Regions from separate parts of the Homo sapiens genome. Here regions 2, 3 and 4 are each linked to region 1. Evidence: fine-mapped expression QTL. A gene starts in region 1. Each other region holds a variant in brackets. All regions are shown on one strand. Distances are between the middles of the regions. Region 1 holds the start of RSPO4 (R-spondin 4). Region 2 has its middle 8.9 kb from the start of PSMF1. Region 3 has its middle 32 kb from the start of RSPO4. Region 4 has its middle 25 kb from the start of DEFB126.

The links. PIP is the estimated chance that this variant, and not a neighbour inherited with it, causes the effect. A credible set is the group of variants that fine-mapping cannot tell apart.
Region 2: its variant is the best candidate, but not a certain one, in a credible set for the expression of RSPO4 in whole blood (TOPMed, PIP 0.85).
Region 3: its variant is the best candidate, but not a certain one, in a credible set for the expression of RSPO4 in whole blood (TOPMed, PIP 0.77).
Region 4: its variant is the best candidate, but not a certain one, in a credible set for the expression of RSPO4 in ovary (GTEx, PIP 0.66).

Annotation. Positions count from the first base shown.
Region 1 is chr20:999,996-1,004,161 of GRCh38, forward strand. RSPO4 (R-spondin 4) reads right to left here and starts at 2,316. Exons shown (of 5, transcript NM_001029871.4): 1 at 2,091-2,316. The coding sequence starts at 2,169.
Region 2 is chr20:1,107,622-1,111,787 of GRCh38, forward strand. No RefSeq gene overlaps it. Among named protein-coding and RNA genes, the nearest start is that of PSMF1, 8.9 kb to the right of the region's middle. RefSeq lists an enhancer at 1,045-1,094. The variant C/T (reference allele first, on the strand shown) is at 2,421.
Region 3 is chr20:1,032,418-1,036,583 of GRCh38, forward strand. No RefSeq gene overlaps it. Among named protein-coding and RNA genes, the nearest start is that of RSPO4, 32 kb to the left of the region's middle. RefSeq lists an enhancer at 1,660-1,709. The variant A/G (reference allele first, on the strand shown) is at 1,914.
Region 4 is chr20:115,818-119,983 of GRCh38, forward strand. No RefSeq gene overlaps it. Among named protein-coding and RNA genes, the nearest start is that of DEFB126, 25 kb to the right of the region's middle. The variant G/A (reference allele first, on the strand shown) is at 2,472.

The DNA of each region.
Region 1 (4,166 bases):
GTAGCTGGAATTACAGGCGCCCGCCACCACACCCAGCTAATCATTGTATTTTTAGTAAAGACAGGGTTTCATCATGTTAGCCAGGCTGGTCTCAAACTCCTGATCTCAAATGATCCGCCTGCCTTGGCCTCCCAAAGTGCTGGTATTACAGGCGTGAGCCACCACACCTGGCCTAAACCAGCTCCTCTTTAGATGAGGAAACTGAGGCTCTGAGAAGGGAAGACCAGCACACCTCAGAAGATATCTTCTCAGCATTATGTCAGGCAGATTGGGATTCGAGCCTGCTTTGCTACTCACCTGCTGTGCGACCTTGGACAAGTCAGTTTCCTTCTCTGAACCTCAGTTCCCTCATCCAGAAAACAAGCATCTCTCCCCTCCCTCCACTAAGCCACTGTGAGTAGCCAAAGACACAGTGGACAGGAAATGAGAATGATTAATACTTACGAGCACCCATTAGGAGCCTGTGTCCTTAGCTACTCATCTTGCCCACAATCCTCCTTATGAGCAGGATACTTAAGTAAAAGATGGGTTGATGAAGGGAAAGGGGGTTTGTTTGATTTTTTGGTATTGTTTAGAATGGAGAAAGATCTCAGAGATCTTCTAAAGGACCCTCAGATGGGTAAAGTGAGGATTGGACAGGCAAAGTGACTTATCCAAAGTCACTCAGTTGGTAACTGGGGAAGCTGGGATTTGAACTCAGTTGACCTGGCTCCAGAGCCCATGCCCCTAACTACTAAACAAAGGCCATTCACAAAGGAGTGTCCCCATAGAGTCCCAAACTCACCCCAGCTCAGCTGAAAACCACACGCCTCTCTAGTCCCTTGTCCCACTGTCACAGCAAGAACTGGAGCCTCTTGGGCCACAGTCTCCCCAACCCCATCCAATCCCACCTCCCAATTCTCCCACAGCCTCTGTCTGCTTCCTGCTCCGTTCCAGGAGTGACTGTGTCGCTGTAGGGCTTTCACACAAATGGAAGGCCCCAGAGGGCAACCCATCCTCTCTCATTTTCCTTCCCCTTTATCCTTGCTCAGACCCGATGCCAGGGCTGGAAAGAGAGAAGACACCAGCTGGACAATTCAGCAGTTATTTAAACCAGTCTGAGCCTTGGAATCCCAGGCTTTATTAAAACTGGACGACCCCTATGTCATGAGCATATAGTTGGGATTTGATGAGCTAGGACATGAAAAACCCGTGGCATAGTGGCTGGCATTCGGCTGCTGATCTTAAGAGTGGCACCTGGAGGCCAAAGGGCTGCCCAGCTCAGGCAGGCGATTTGCTCACTTGCTCACCCGCTTACCCTTCTCTGAGGCACAGGCTCTACCAACTCCTGCTCTGCAGGGACAGCCTCCAACCCACCTTCTGAGGATGTTCTGACTCTCACAGCGAGGCTGTGGCATAGGACTCCCAGGTGAGAGCGCATGCGGCCCCTGGTACATTTATAATCTGAACCTTGGCTCATCTTCCTAGTGGCCTGAGAGGTGAAGATGGAAAAGCTGAGGCTCTCTGAGGGGCTGGACTTCTTCTAGGTCATCCCCTATTAGAATAAGTGAACCTGAACTCAGGTCTCAGGTCTGGCTGAACTCAACATAGGGGGGCCATGGAGGATCACTGCCCTCTGGGAGGTGACACCAGGAGTCAGGGTGAGTGATGAGGCTGGGACTGGGGCCTCTGGACGCCCAGCCCAAGGCTCTCTATGTCACTTCCTGGCCGAGCATGGATGCTTGGAATGGCTTCTACGCCACTGAGTCTGTCTCCTAGTCCCTGTGCCCCGCAGGCTGGCTCTTGAGTCTTCTGTCTCTGCACGAAGCCATCCTCCTTTCTGCTGACCATGCGGCTACTACAGAGAGCCCTGCTACCCTCTCCCTTCTGGGTGAGTCTCCTTGGCCCACCCTACTCAATGGCTCGCTCACTGGGTGCCCTGGAGCCTCAATCTCCCCATCTTAAGTGAGGTTGAGACTCGTCTGGAGGAGCGAAGGACCCAGGGCGCCAGGCACCAGGCAGATGCCCCCAGAGCCGCCGCCCCCGGTCCTCCGGCCCCCGGTCTGCCCCGCAGCGCCTGCCCGGCCGCCCTGCCCAGCCACCCCTTGTACCTTGCTTCTTCCTTCGGTTCAGGGCGAGCATGTCCACGGCGTGGGCGACGAGCAGGAGCAGGCAGAGTGGCGCCCGCATCTGGGCAGCCGGATCCGGGCTGGCGCTCCCCAGGCGGCCCGACGGCCCAAGGGCCCCACGTCCCGGCGGCGGCACGGCGGGCGCGGGGGCTGCTGTGGGCGCGCCGGGCGCATCCGCCAGGCGCGGGTCGGTCCGGCCGCCAGGTCTAGTGAGGGCGTTGGCGGAGCCGGGGCACTGCCCTGGCGGGGAGGAGCCGGCGCGGCGGGGGCGGCGCGTTAACCAGCTCGGGGCCCGGGAGCGCGCGCGGGGAGGGGGCGGGGGTCACCCGGGTCGGGGCCCTCGAGTTCGATCTGTCCCGCAGCCGGCGGTCTTGCGTCTTTCCCGCCCCCAGCACTGCCCCCGAGCACGTGCACGTGCCCACCGCCAGCCACAGGTACGCACGCGCGCGCAGGTACAGATGCGCGGACACCCGGAGACCCGTACGGTCCCCCGCGCCCTCTCAGCGCCTGTGATTTTCTTTCCCTCCCCCCAGTCCCCTTTCTCTGTCTGTTCCTCCTTCTGGCCCTTAAGGACAACTCCTTGTCTCCTGCTTTCTCGGTCTTTCCGCGGCCCGCGCTCCCCTGCTCTGCCCCCGACCCTGCCTGGCTGTTCCTGCATCCTTTACTCTTGCCGGCCGTCTCTCTCTCAGGCTCACTGTCTGTGTCCTCCTGGCTGGGCCTCTGGTTCTCCCTTTTCTCTGTCTCTCCCTTCAACCCCATCTCTCCCCTTCTCCCCTCCTGCAGGGTGGGGTGTTTGCGGGGCTCCTGCTGCCTGGCTTTCTCTTTTTCTCTCTACTCTGTCTCATTCTTTTAACAGAGGCCTGAGCCCCTTCTGGCCACTAACCCTGAATGTTTCCTGTGCAGTCTGCGGGGATCATCTACTCCGACTCAAAGTGACCAGCACCTCATAAATCCACTTGTGACAGGGCTGGGGACCTGGACTGTGTTTCCTCCAACCTTATCACCAGGACTGGGAGCAGCTGGTTCAAGTTTAACCCTTTCAGAGCAAAATTCCTCCTTCAACCCGACAGCATGCTCACCTCTCCTGTCACTATAACCACCAAAAACAACAACAATCATGCTAGCTATCATTTGTGAGGCATATATGGTGGGCATTGCTAAGAACTTGACATATACTAGAGTCTTCAAAACAACCCAATGGTTTGGGTTTGTATTCTGAGTAATTCCACTTTTCTGGGGAGCAAAGGGAAGCTCAGAGAGGCCAAGTGACTTGCCCAAGGCCACACAGCAGGTCAGTGGCCATTCTGGTCCAGTGCCTGCCCCTCTTAGCCACTTCTCAGGCACAGACTCATCAGAATGGAAGAGGCCTTGGAGGGAGGCCTAGAGAAACTTACAGTTGACACTCTCTTGCTGAACAATTGTCCTTCCTTTTTCTTTTCTTTTTTTTTTCTTTTTTTTGAGATGGGTTTTCACTCTGTCACCCAGGCTGGAGTGCAATGGCGCCATCTCGGCTCACTGCAACCTCTGCCTCCTGGGTTCAAGTGATTCTCCTGCCTCAGCCTCCCAAGTAGCTGGGATTACAGGCACCTGCCACCACACCCAGCTAATTTTTGTAGTTTTTAGTAGAGACGGGGTTTCACCATGTTGGCCAGGCTGGTCTTGAACTCCTGACCTCAAGTGATCCACCTGCCTCAGCCTCCCAAAGTGCTGGGACTACAGACGTGAGCCACCCCACCCAGCCTGTCCTCTTTTTTCCTACATGTGGAGCTTGCTCCAAAAGAAATGGAAGGTAAATGCTGGTATCTCCTCCAGCTCCTTCTCCCAGTGCAATGAGGGACACTTGAAGGCATGGCAGGGGCAGGGGAAACACACAGAGAGTGTGGCAGCTGAAGGTACAGCCCTGGCCTGGCCATTCTTTCTGTGGGGCCCCAAGAACGCTGGCAGACAACACGGAGAACTTGGTGGAATGTCAGAGACAGCCCACCCAAAGTGCTCCATTTCACAGATGAGGCCACTGAGCCTTCAGGACTGGGGGGTGCCTAGATTAGGCCACCCAGT
Region 2 (4,166 bases), 110 kb after region 1:
TGTTCTTCTCAGCTGTGTGACCCTGGAAAAGTTGCTTAAGTTCTCTGAGCTACTTAACTTCTCATTTAAAAGTTGTTATGAAAATTGAATTAGATAACATGAGCCAAGTGCCAGACACATAGTAAATCCTCAATAAATAGGTGCTGTTTTCCAAGGCCTCATTATCTCAAATAATGAGCCACCTCTTAGGGGCCCTTATCATGAGCCAGGTACTGTGGGAGGCATTTTATTGACATCATGTTCAGAAATTCTCCCAACAGCCCTTGGGGAGACACCACTATAACCCCTATTTGACAATTTGATAAGCCATTTCCCCAAAGTTGCACAGTGAGTAAGCAAAGAGGCCGAGATGTAAACCCAGGTTCCCTGACTCCAAGGCCTAGACACTTTTCTACACTATGCACCTGCTAATGTATTTATTCACTCATCACATATTTATTGGGCACCTACTATGTATGCCAGGCTCTGTTCTAGGTGCCAGGACTATAGCAGTGAACCAAACAGACACAAATCCCTGTGCTCATGAAGCTGATGTTCTGGTTTGGGGAGCATCAGGCAGAGCTTCTAGCCTTTCAAGGTAATACTGGTCACCCCTCCCACCTGCCTGACCAAGGTGGGCAAGTGCCTGATGGAACTTTGGAGTTGGAGCTGGACATGGGTGGCATGGGGGCAAGGCAAGGATCAGGCCCAAGTCTGTGAAAGGATGGAGACAAAGAGAAGTAGGGGGTACAGGAAAGAGAGTGGCCTCAGAAACCGACCCTCTGTGCCTCCAAGGACTTGGGTTCTCTGGGGACCGTCTCTCCCTGAAGGCAACGATCCCCAGAGCTAAAATCAGGTATTTCCAGGTGTGAAGGCTGATTGCAGTGTGGACAGAGCCTGCTGGGGGGGCTCTGGTCTAGGGCTCCCCTGAACCTCCTGGTGGAATGAAGTCAGGATGGAGGAGAGTGTGCCTCTCCCTGCGTGGCTGCCATCTGTGGACATTTGGGTGGGCCAGGGTGCCCTCTTGTGGCCTCCCTTGTCTCTGCAGAGACTCTTCATGTGTCCCTGTGGTTGGAGGAGCTTCCCATGCCTAGATCGTTTCTCTGTTCCCAGCCTGGACCCTTGACCCTTTTTTCTATTCCCAGCCTTTTCTGCCCCTGAGGTCTGAAAAATGGTCCTCGTCATGACTCTTGGCTTTTCCTGTGTAGATCTTGAAACTCAGAGCTCAGAATCCCGCAAGCCCTTAGTGATGCTGTTGGAGGCATGGCACTGTGATGAGGAGGCAAGCAGGCTGACCGCCTGGCTCAAATCCTGACCCTGCTGCTTAGGACAATGGCACAACTTCTCCCTTATTTTTCTCATTTTTAAAGCGAAGATAATAATAGTTTCTACCTTAAAGTGTTGTTCTGGGAATTAAATGAGACAATATACATTGAGCAATTTGTCAAAGCCCCAGTACTACCCCCCGACCCCCACCACACACACACACTCACACTCACACCTTTTATGCCTTCCCTTAGTATTTCAGAGGCCTGAAACCTAACAAGTGCATTTTTCAGAATGACTTGCCAGCTGGGTTCCAAGTTAGATCCAGCCACTGGGAGGCAGAGGCAGGGGCACATTATTGCTTCTCCAACAGCAGTGGCAGAATCTTGAGTTTTAGGTTTCAGTTTGGCAGCAGCCTCTGCAGGTCCCCCCACCACCCTACATACACACAGACTGCCCCAGGATGGGAGGCAGCTGTGATCACTGCTGGTGGTTTTCTGAAGCTCCTGCAATGTCCAGACTTTCTGAAAGCTGGTGGCAGCTTTCCCCAATCTTTACATTCCAATCCATCCACTGGTTCAGTAAGCATCATATTTTTCCCATTAAATCCCCTTCTGCTGGATGTCAAGCAACCAGGGCTCTCATTCATTGTTGGCAGGTGTGGAAAATGGTATGACCATTTTGGGAACACATTTGGCAGTTTCCTATAAACATATACTCTACCATAAGATCCAGCAATTCTACACCTAGGAATTTATCCAAGACCAGTGAAATCATAAGGCCATACCAAGACCTGTCCATGTATGTCTACAGCAGCATTACTCATCACCATCCCAAGCTGGAAACAACCCAAATGCCCATCAATAAGGGACTGGACAAACTGGCACATCCATACAACACAATATTACTCAATAAAAAGGAAGGTACTGATACACACAACATGGATGAAGTTTGGACATGATGATGAGTGAAAAAAGGCATGAAGGGGTATTATTTTATGTGTCAACTATGGAGGGGTGCCAAACCTTCAAGAAAATAATTGCCACACAGCTGTGAGGAGTGCAGTTTGCTAACGTCCTCCGGCCATAGGACCACTGGGATCATGCTGAAGCCATGCTCTTTACGGGCAGCCCACCGAGCAGAGACAGCACTAAGGCCTGGCCATTTCAATCCAA[C/T]AGGGAACTCTCTATGATATTTCTTGGTGCTGGAGTTCTCCGTTGGGCTGGCTGAGACTTTCTCACTAATCCTTATTCCTTCCTTCTCTTCTTTTGTAGGAGCCAGATCAGCAGAAAGGCCTGAAGGTTCTCCCCACATACTCCTGTTCCCACTCCCCTTTTCCTTTTGTGACTTATCCCCAATAAACCTCTAACACTGCTAACTCCATCTTGACATCTGCTTCCTGGGGCATTGTATACATTTCATTTATATGAACTTTTAAGAGAGGCAAAATTAGATACCAAAAATATAGATGCAAAAAACACAGATCAGTGGTTGCCTGGTGATATGATTTGGATGTTTTGTCCCCTCCAAATCTCCTGCTGAAATGTGACCTCCAATGCTAGAAGCGGGCATAGGGGGAGGTGTTTGGGTCATGGGGGTAGATTCCTCATGAATGGCTTGGTGTCCTCCCCATGGTAATGAGTGAGTTCTCACTCTATTAGTTCATGTGAGAGCTGGTTATTTAAAGGATCCTGGCACCTCTTCCTTGCTCCCTCCCCTTCTCTTTCTCCATATGACATGCATGCTTCCCCTTTGCCTTCCACCATGATTGAAAGCTTCCTAGGCCTCACCAGAAGCCAAGCAGATACTGGTGTCATGCTAGACAGCCTGCAGTGCCTTTCTTTAGAAATTACCCAGTCCCAGGTATTCCTTTATAGCAATGCAAAATGGACTAACACACCTCAGCTAGAGGCTGGAGAGATTAACTGCCAAGGCACATGAGGAAATTTTTTGGAGTCATGTAAACATGCTATATCTTGGTCATGGTGGTTACGCTGGTCTATACATTAGGCAAAACTCATGAAGTATACAACTAAAACGGGTGATTTTATTGTATGTAAATTATCTCAATAGAGATGAATTTTTAAAAATCCTTTCTTTCTGGAAATACCTAGAGAATACGGTGGTTATAAGACTGTGTGCATTTGTCAAAACTCAGAGTTATACACTAAAAAGGGGGAGTTGTACAATCTATAAATTATGTTTTTGGCCAGGCATGGTGGCTTACGCCTGTAATCCCAACACTTTGGGAGGCCAAGGCAGGTGAATCACTTGAGGCCAGGAGTTCGAGACCAGCCTGGCCAACATGGTGAAACCCCATCTCTACTAAAAATACAAAAATTAGCTGGGCCTGGTGGTGCGTGCCTGTAATCCCAGTTACTTGGGAGGCTGAGGCAGGAGAATCTCTTGAACCCAGGAGGCGGAGGTTGCAGTGAGCCGAGATCGTGCTACTGTACTCCAGCCTGGGTGATAGAGCAACACTCTGTCTCAAAAAAAAATCATATATATTTTTTCATTGAAGAATGAATCAGGGAAATAATAATTTTTACTGATTATCATGTGGTTATTGCTGAAAATAATTTCATAGATGAGGAGGGAGGTGTTAAAAAGTGATCTGCTTCATTGACATCCTCATACTTCCTGATTTCAAAACTTACTACAAAGCTACATAATCAAAACATTATGGTACTGGCATAAAGACAGACATATAGACCAATGGAACAGAATAGAGAGCCCAGAAATGAACCTTCACATGTATGGCCAAATGATTTTCAACAAAGACACCAAGACCATTCAATAGGGAAAGAACAGCCTTTTCAACCAATGATGCTGGGGAAACTGGATATTCATATAAAAAGAATGAAGCTGGACCTCTCCTTCACACCACACATAAAAATGAACTCAAGATGGATCAAAGACCT
Region 3 (4,166 bases), 32 kb after region 1:
AGGTGCCCGCCACCATGCCCAGCTATTTTTTTTTTCTTAGTAGAGAGAGGTTTTGCCATGTTGGCCAGGCTGGTCTTGAACTCCTGACCTCAAGCAATCCACCTGCCTCGGTCTCCCAAAGTGCTGGGATTATAGGCATGAGCCACTGTGCCCAGCCTACACAGTGAGCTTTTGACCAATCTAGAATTTGGGCCCAAGATTGTTTAATCCCAAACCCAGTGCTCTTTCCGCTACACTTCTCTCACCCTGGGCACATCCACCAACAACATTTGTTGAACTCCTATTCTGTATACTTCAGGGAAACTTTATCTGGTCTCTACTTCCACTGAGCTTGTGGTCTAGGAGAAGAACAAGAGTTTTATCTAACAATAATAATTGTATTTTTAAGTGCTTACGTTTATTAAATACTTACTATCTCCTAGACCAGCCTTTTTCAGTGGAGTCCATGTATTGCAGAGTATACTCCACTGGGTTGCAAGAAAAACAATTAGTAATTCTATCTGTATATTTGATCTCATCTTTTAAAAATTTTCATTTTGTGTATATCATATAAGATGATAATATATTGATTGATAATATATTATGTTTTTACTTTGTAAATGTACATATTAAATATATTGGGGGCAATGTTCACTGACAAGAATGGGACACCTAAATCTTTAAAGACCCATTGGTCGCCTGATCACATGATCCCATCTGGCCCTCATGACACTCCTGAGGACCAGATTTTTTTTGTTGTTTTTAGAGACAGAGTTTGCTATGTCACTCAGGCTGGGATGCAGTGGTACAGTGATGGCTCACTGCAGCCTTGAACTCCTGGGCTCAAATGTTCTTCCTGCCTCAGCCTCCCAAAGCTCTGGGATTACGGGCATGAGCCACCATGCGTGACTGAGAACCCGATGTGTTGCCCCATGTTACATATGAAGATACATCTTTAAGGTAATGAATATCCCAATCACCCAGATTTAATTCTTAAGCGTTGTATACAGGTATCAAAATATCACATATACCCCCCAAATATGGCCAACTATTGCATGATTAAAAAATAAAAGAAAAAAGAAAAAGAAACCATCTTTAGCAATACCCTTTTAAAAAGTGCTTTTTGTTTGTTTAGCTTTCTTTGAACATTTGACCCAAGTCTTCCCTCACTCAGAAAACCACTCTGTAAAACATCCCTCAACATGATTTCCTCACAGACAAACCTGTCTGATAATTTAATGCTGCTGCCATTTTTTTTTCTGGAGCTCTGAACTTTGATGCCTATCTGGACTAGTTTTGCTCTAGACTTGGGGCACAGATACCATTAGGAATTCCTTTGTCTCTCCTGTGTTGAAACCACAGACTGCTATATCTCAGTTCATCATAGAAAATTTACAAAATAAAAGCCACAGAGATTCATTCCCCTGCCTGTGTCTAAGCTCTTGTCCAAGCCCCTCTCACATTGACTCTGGGCTTGGTCACGTGACTTGCTTTGGCCAATGGCATAATGGCAAACATGACACAAGCAGCAGCTGGAAAATTACTTGTGCATATGAGCCTTTGCCCTTTCAGCTCTGGGGAACCCTGTGACCACAACCAGGCTGGCAGCAAACCCAGGCTGGTTTGCTGAAGTATAAGAGACCGATGGCTAAATCATCTCTGTTACCCCAGCTGTGCCAAGCCAACCAGCATATATATGTGAGTGAGGCCATTGACGACCAGCTGACGGCAGACACAGGAGAGAAGCCAGCCAAGACCACATGGAGCCCAGCCCACGCCACTACTGGGCTATAGGTTCATAAGGGAATAAATGGTGGCCGTTTTCAGGCAATTTGTTACACAGGAAAAGCTCATGGTTCCTCTTCTTGGTTTAGTTCCTCTTTTTGGTGGAGCACAGCCCCTGGTAGCATGGAAGTTTTAAAACATGTGCACCA[A/G]TCCTTTGACACTTGTCCCATCAGCAGATAGGGTTCATGACACCTTCCCTTGCTTGGGCCTGTACCTTAGTAATGCAGCAAAAGTGACATGGCATAACTTCTGAAGATAAGTTAGAAAAGGCCCTACAGTTTCCACCTGGTTCTCCTGGGACACTCACTCCGGGGTAAGCCAGCCATTGAGGAAGAGGTATGAGATCACCGTGCTGGAAAAGCTACATGTCAACACACCACTCAACAATCCAGTCGAGACAGCCTTCCAGCCATCTGGGCCAAAGGAGCCAGACTGGTGAGTGATGTCATCTTGGGCCCTCCAGACCAGCTCATCCACCAGCTGAAGACCACTAAGTGAGCTCCATCAACACCACGTGGAACAGAATCATCACCCAGTTGCACCCTCCCTCAGTTTTTAACCCACAAAATTAATCCACTAATTTTGGTGATGGTTTGTCATGCAACAATAGATAACCAGATTCTATGCCATGATGGGAAGTTCTGCAGTTTCATTGGGAAGTGGCAGGCATTCTGGGACAGAAAAAACTTGGGGTCATTTGTGCAATCTACTGCACAGATTTTTAATCTCTGGTTTCTTACTCTCTGTTCCTTCCAGAGAGCTTCTTGTTCACATTTTACTGCTGCAATATCTTTATCACTCAAGGGATATTAATTGTAGGATTTATTTTAAGTTTTCTCTTGTTCCCTGGATTCTTTTCTTGAAGACCTTTTACCCCGCCCTCATGGTTTGCTTTGATCTCTGCACTTCATGATAGAAATTTCTAATGATCCTTGGCTGTCTACTCACATTACCACTCTGGCTGGAAACTGGGTGGGGAGGGTGGACTGGTAGGCTTTTGTGTAGGGTCCATGCAGGGTGGTTGCATAGGGCTGGTGCAAAGGGGCTGGTTGGCTTTTTCTGTGATGCACTCTCCTCCCACCCCCAATTACCGTATCTTTAGGTCTTTGTCCTGGAAGTGGTTCTCCAGATAATTTTCTGCCTGGGGTTGGACATTCTAGAATGAGACGGGTGAAGGGGGCTGAAGATCTCACCTTCTCTGGGCCTGATGTTTCTAGTTTTGGAGTTTCTTTGTTGCCTTTTTTTCAGAGAATAAACCTCCCTTTGCTTGCCCAGAAGTGAGTGGGGTTACTACCTGGCTGGGCAGGATGGGGGTTGGGGACGTGGAGGTCCCATGCTCCTTGTACAGATTGCTTTCAATCCCCACTTCACCAGCAGCTCCTCCAAGACCTAGTAGCTTCAATTTTTGAGGCCTTTAGGCAAATTGGCTTGTTTCTCTATGCAGCAATCCACCCACACAGCAGTCACCTACCCCATCCATTTAGCTTTGACTTTCTTCCTCTCGGTTATGTCACTGGCCACTTCATCCATTTCCCTCCTTTGTAGTTCAGGGTTACAAATGTCTCTCGATTTCCTCAAAGACAGAGTTTTTGTTTCTGCTCCTTATTCTTGTTTTGGGGAAGTTTTTTGTTTGTTTTTTTCTTTTTTAAGAAGAGAAAAGGAATAGAAATGTCTTTAGTCTACTATCTTAAAGCCACCATTTCATTAGAGTTTTAAATGGAAAAAGCACCCTCTTATATTGGACAGAAGTGTGTCAGCAATGTGGGTTTTGTGACTCTTACTGGAGTAAGAGCCTACATTATACGCCAAGGTGGCTTCATGTTCTAGTTTTACAAATGCATTTGATACAGTTAATAAAATAGCAAATTATGTATTAAGGAGAATACAGATAAGTCATTGCTGGCTTGGCAGAGAGTGGAGAGCAGCCTTGACCAAAAAGCTTAGAGGAGGAAAAGTGGGGTGGAGGCATGAGGTTGACCTGTCCCTGCTAAGTGCCACTGTTTTCAGCTCACCCCTTTCCACCTGCAGGTCCCTGCTCAGATGCCACCTCCTTGGAGGATCCCCACCCACCTGTCACTTTCTCTCTACTAACTTGTTTTATGTCTGACTGCCTGCCAATGGATTTGATTGACTTATTTATCTTTAGGTTTGTCGACCCCACTAGATCATGGGCTCCATGACCAGGGGGAGCTTTGCTTTTTCACCTCCATACACTCGGTGCCTGTGAGCACCTGGTACATCAGTAGATGCTCAATAAAGAGTTGTTGAGTGAACAAATGAATGAGCCAGTGATTGCGTGGATCCATGTTTTCTATGAGAAGGCAGAGCTCTGAGGACAGACAGAGGCCCAGTGTGCATGAGAAAGTCCTGCTGGCCCAGGCAGTGGCCTAAGAGCTGCCTAC
Region 4 (4,166 bases), 880 kb before region 1:
TCACCTGCGACCCAGAGCCTTTCCGAAAACCCACCCACCACAGGCCTGTGATATTCTTCTGGGTTCCCACCACCCAAGAATCCCACCTTCCCCTGCCTGAGAGTTTGGCTGGTGACCCAGGGACCAGCCTGAACCCCACCCCCACCCCATTACAGTCAGCACCTGAAATCTGGGATAGATAACCCCAGTCCAGCCCCTTCAGGGCCATGCACACTGTCCAGCAGGCCTTCTGGAGGCCTGTCAGCTGAGAAACTATCAATACCCTTCCAGTGCTGTTGGCACCTGACCAATTTCCTCAGGGCCTGAGGTTGGGCCTACCCAACCAGCAAACACCACCATGACCAACACCGACCTGCACGGACCCAAAGGTGGAGACCTTCCTTCTCAAAAAGCAGCAGTAATGCCCCATCATAGAATAAGTGAGCCTTAAAGCTATCTGTATCAGGTTGAGTGATGAGGTTATACCCTGAACAACTCTCATGGAGAATCATAAAACAAGTGTTCCCTGTGGCCCTCAACCACATTGCAGTCCAGAGATAGACTATAGTGTGCATCTGAACTAGGAGTCATGAGCCCTGAAACAGGGTGTGATAAGGAAACAGATCACATTTCTACCTACCTAGGATGGGGAGCTGGTGCAGTCTTCTCGCCCACAAGCCCCTACAGAGACCTCAGTGCAGGAGTTGCTCCCAGCCACGCTCATCAGAGCTGGTGCCTGTGCTTGCCATTGGTATACTAATGGGCAAGCCAGGGGCACCAGCTCTTCTCAGCTCTGTCCCACCATCCCCACAGAACAAGAAGCTCAGTACATCAGGCACCCCCACTGTCCAGCCCTTCACCTGAAACAACTGAGAGCCCCTAATAGTAAAAAAAGATCAGATCTATACCCATCTGTTTATGGGACAGCTGGCTGTTACTTGCAAATGTCATCTACCAGTCTATAGGTCAAACTGGACAGCCCATCAAAAAACCTGCTGGTAGAAGTGTGTAGGACTATAGAAACAAAGCCAAAAGCCCTACCCAACACAATCCCCTCCAGATAAGAAGGAACTAGTATAAGAATTCTGCTGTCATGAAAAATCTGAATGTGTGACACCAACAAGGTTCACTCTAGCTCTCCAGGAGTGGTCCTAGCCAAAATAGAAGCTGAGAGATGACAGATGGAGAATTCAAAGCATAGATTGCAGGAAAATTCTTTGAGATTCAAGATAAGGTTGAAAATCAACACAAAGAAACCTGTAAAGCAATCCAGAGAATAAAGGAAGAGGTAAACTCTTAAAAATAAATCTATCAGAGCTACTGAAAGTGAAAAACTCACTTAAGACATTCCGAAATTCAATGAAAAGTTTTATCAATAGACTAGATGTAGCAGAAGAAAGAATTTCAGAGCTTGAAGATCAGTCTTTCAAACTAACCCAGTCAGACAAAATAAAGAAAAAGTTATTTTGAAAAATGAACCAAATCTTCAAGAAATATGGGATTATGTAAAGTGACCAAACCTATGAATTACTGGCATTCTCAAGAGAGAAAGAGGAAAAAGTAAACAACCTAGAAAGCATATTTGAGGGAATAATTCAAGAAAATTTCCTTTATCTTGCTAGAGAGGTAGACATCCAGATACAATAAATTCACAGAACACCTGCAAGATGCTATACAAAGTGAACATCATCAAGACATAGGGTCATCAGACAGTCTAAGGTCAATTCTAAAGAAAAAATCTTGAAGGCAGCCTAGAGAAAAGTGTCAGATGAGTTACAAAGGTGAGCCCATCTGGCTAACAGCAGACTTATCAGCAGAAACCCTACAATCCCAAAGAGACTGGGGGCCTATTTAAAGAATTCTCAAAGAAAAGAAACTCCAAGCAAGAATTTCATACCCTGCCAAACTAAGCTTTATAAGTGAAGGAGAAATAAGATCTTTTTCAGACAAGCAATCACTAAGGCAATTTATTGCCACTAGACCAGCCTTACAAGAGATCCTTAAGGGAGTTGGAGTTCTAAACATAAAGATGGAAGAACAATATCTGCCACCACAAAACCACACCTAAGTACATAGCACATAGACCCTTTAAAGCTATTACACAATAGGAACTATAAAGCAACCAGCTTACAATTTCATGACAGGATCAAAATCTCACATATCAATATTAACCTTGAATGTAAATGGTCTTAACACCCCACTTAAAGGCACAGAGTGGCAAGTTGGATCATAAAATAAGACCCATCCATCTGTTGTGTTCAAGAGACCCATCTCACATGTAATGACTACTACACTAATTTTATCGGGTTTTTTTCCCCATTGCTTATAAGTTTCATTTTATGGTATGTTATTTTGATTGTATGCCAAACATTGGGTAAATGGGTTTTGGAGACTCCAAGTGATGTTATCTTCAAACATAAAAGGTCCTCCCTTTCTCCAGATAGCAAAGAGATAAGGACATGACTAATTCAATATAACAAGGCATTAAGCTG[G/A]TTCAGGGCTGGGTTTCAGTATTAGTAATGATTCCAACCACATCTAGTTTGGTCCTGTTTCTCAGGAATAGCCCTCCAGGCTTTTTCTTCAGGGTCTGTTTGGTCTCAGTATCTTCAGCCCAAAAAAACAATGAGGGAATTCTAGCTCTGTTCTTTATGGTTTTCAAACATTGCTCTTCAGCCTCCTGATTCAGGCACTTCTGTAATGTCTCAAGGGGGAGACTATCTGTGTGCTTGAGGTAGGCTCCATATCACTATCATATCTGTTTCCTAAGCACTACAAGAGTACAAGAAATCTCTTACTGCCTTTCGGAAGTTTCAGCTGAGCTTTCCAACCTCTCACAAAGCTCTACTTTTCCAATGCTCCATTGGGGGGACTAAAATTTGGGGCACCTGAAATTCCAATTTGTAATTCCTAGAATCTCTGCTACTTCTGCTGATTCAATTACCTCCCAGAAAGCCTTTCTTTCTGGGCCAAGCCTGATTTCCCGTCTGTCCCAAACTGACAAAGGCACCCATGGGGGAAATGGCTGGCAATTATTGACCTACTCCAGAAACAGAAAGCCTGTTCTGTTCTCTCTTTAGAATATCAACTCTTCTAGTACCAGTAATTTCTCTGGTTCTCTAATGCCTTGGAAATATTATTTTAATAAAAATCAAGCTTTTCTAGGTTTTGTATCAAAGGCATTGCTTTTCTGTGATTTACTGATTTCTCCCCAAGAACAGAACTTCTCAGGCCCATTTAATCTTAACTTAATTGCTGTTATGTTTGGCTTTAAATTGGCCATTGTTTAACGTGATTTACATTTTCCTGAGTTTTCTATATTTCTCTTTTTTCTCCTTTCTTTTAATCTTTCTGTATAAACCAGATGTTCTTTAATTCCATTTTCCTCCCCACTAGTTTTTAATGTATTCTCCTTTTCTATTCATCATCACTCTAGAAATGAAGACATACATTCTTAACCTATCAATATCTAATATTAACCAAAAATGTGTATTTCTCCTCAGACAATGCATGGAATACAACTCCATTTCACCTGCCTCCAGTTTATATTCTATTGCTTTATTTTACTTTCATATAATACTAAGACAATATTATTGCATGCGTGACAATTATAGGTAGTTCTATTTTCTGGGTGACTCCAACAAGTTATCATTATAAAGTAACCCATTTTCCTCTAAGATAATTTTTGCCTTAAATACTATTTTGTTCAATACTAAGAAGTAAGATAACTTCCTTTTGTTGGTATTTGCATGTTAAGTTTTTTTCCCATATTTCCACTTTCAATCTTCTCCGTATCTTGTTTTTACATTTATCTGTTGTAAATAGCATCTAATTTTTCATCCAGTCTAGCAACTAGAGTTAATCCATAAATTTACCAATCTCTGAATAATATATGGAACATAGACCACTTTAATTCTATTTAACGCTCCCAATTGATTCTATTTTCAGAATTTTGATATTTAATTATGTTTTTAATCTTATAAAACATCTTTATTTAATTCTGCCAGTTTAATCCACTTTTATCCCTTTTTTTGTTGCTTCTTCATCACATACTTTCCATGTGTGGTCATTTTTTTAAACTAAAGAACATCCTTTAGAATTTCCTTTCATGAGATCTGCTATCTCTATCTGAAAAGGTTGTATTTATATTTTCTTCTTAAAATATTTTTGTGGATATGGATTTCTAGGAT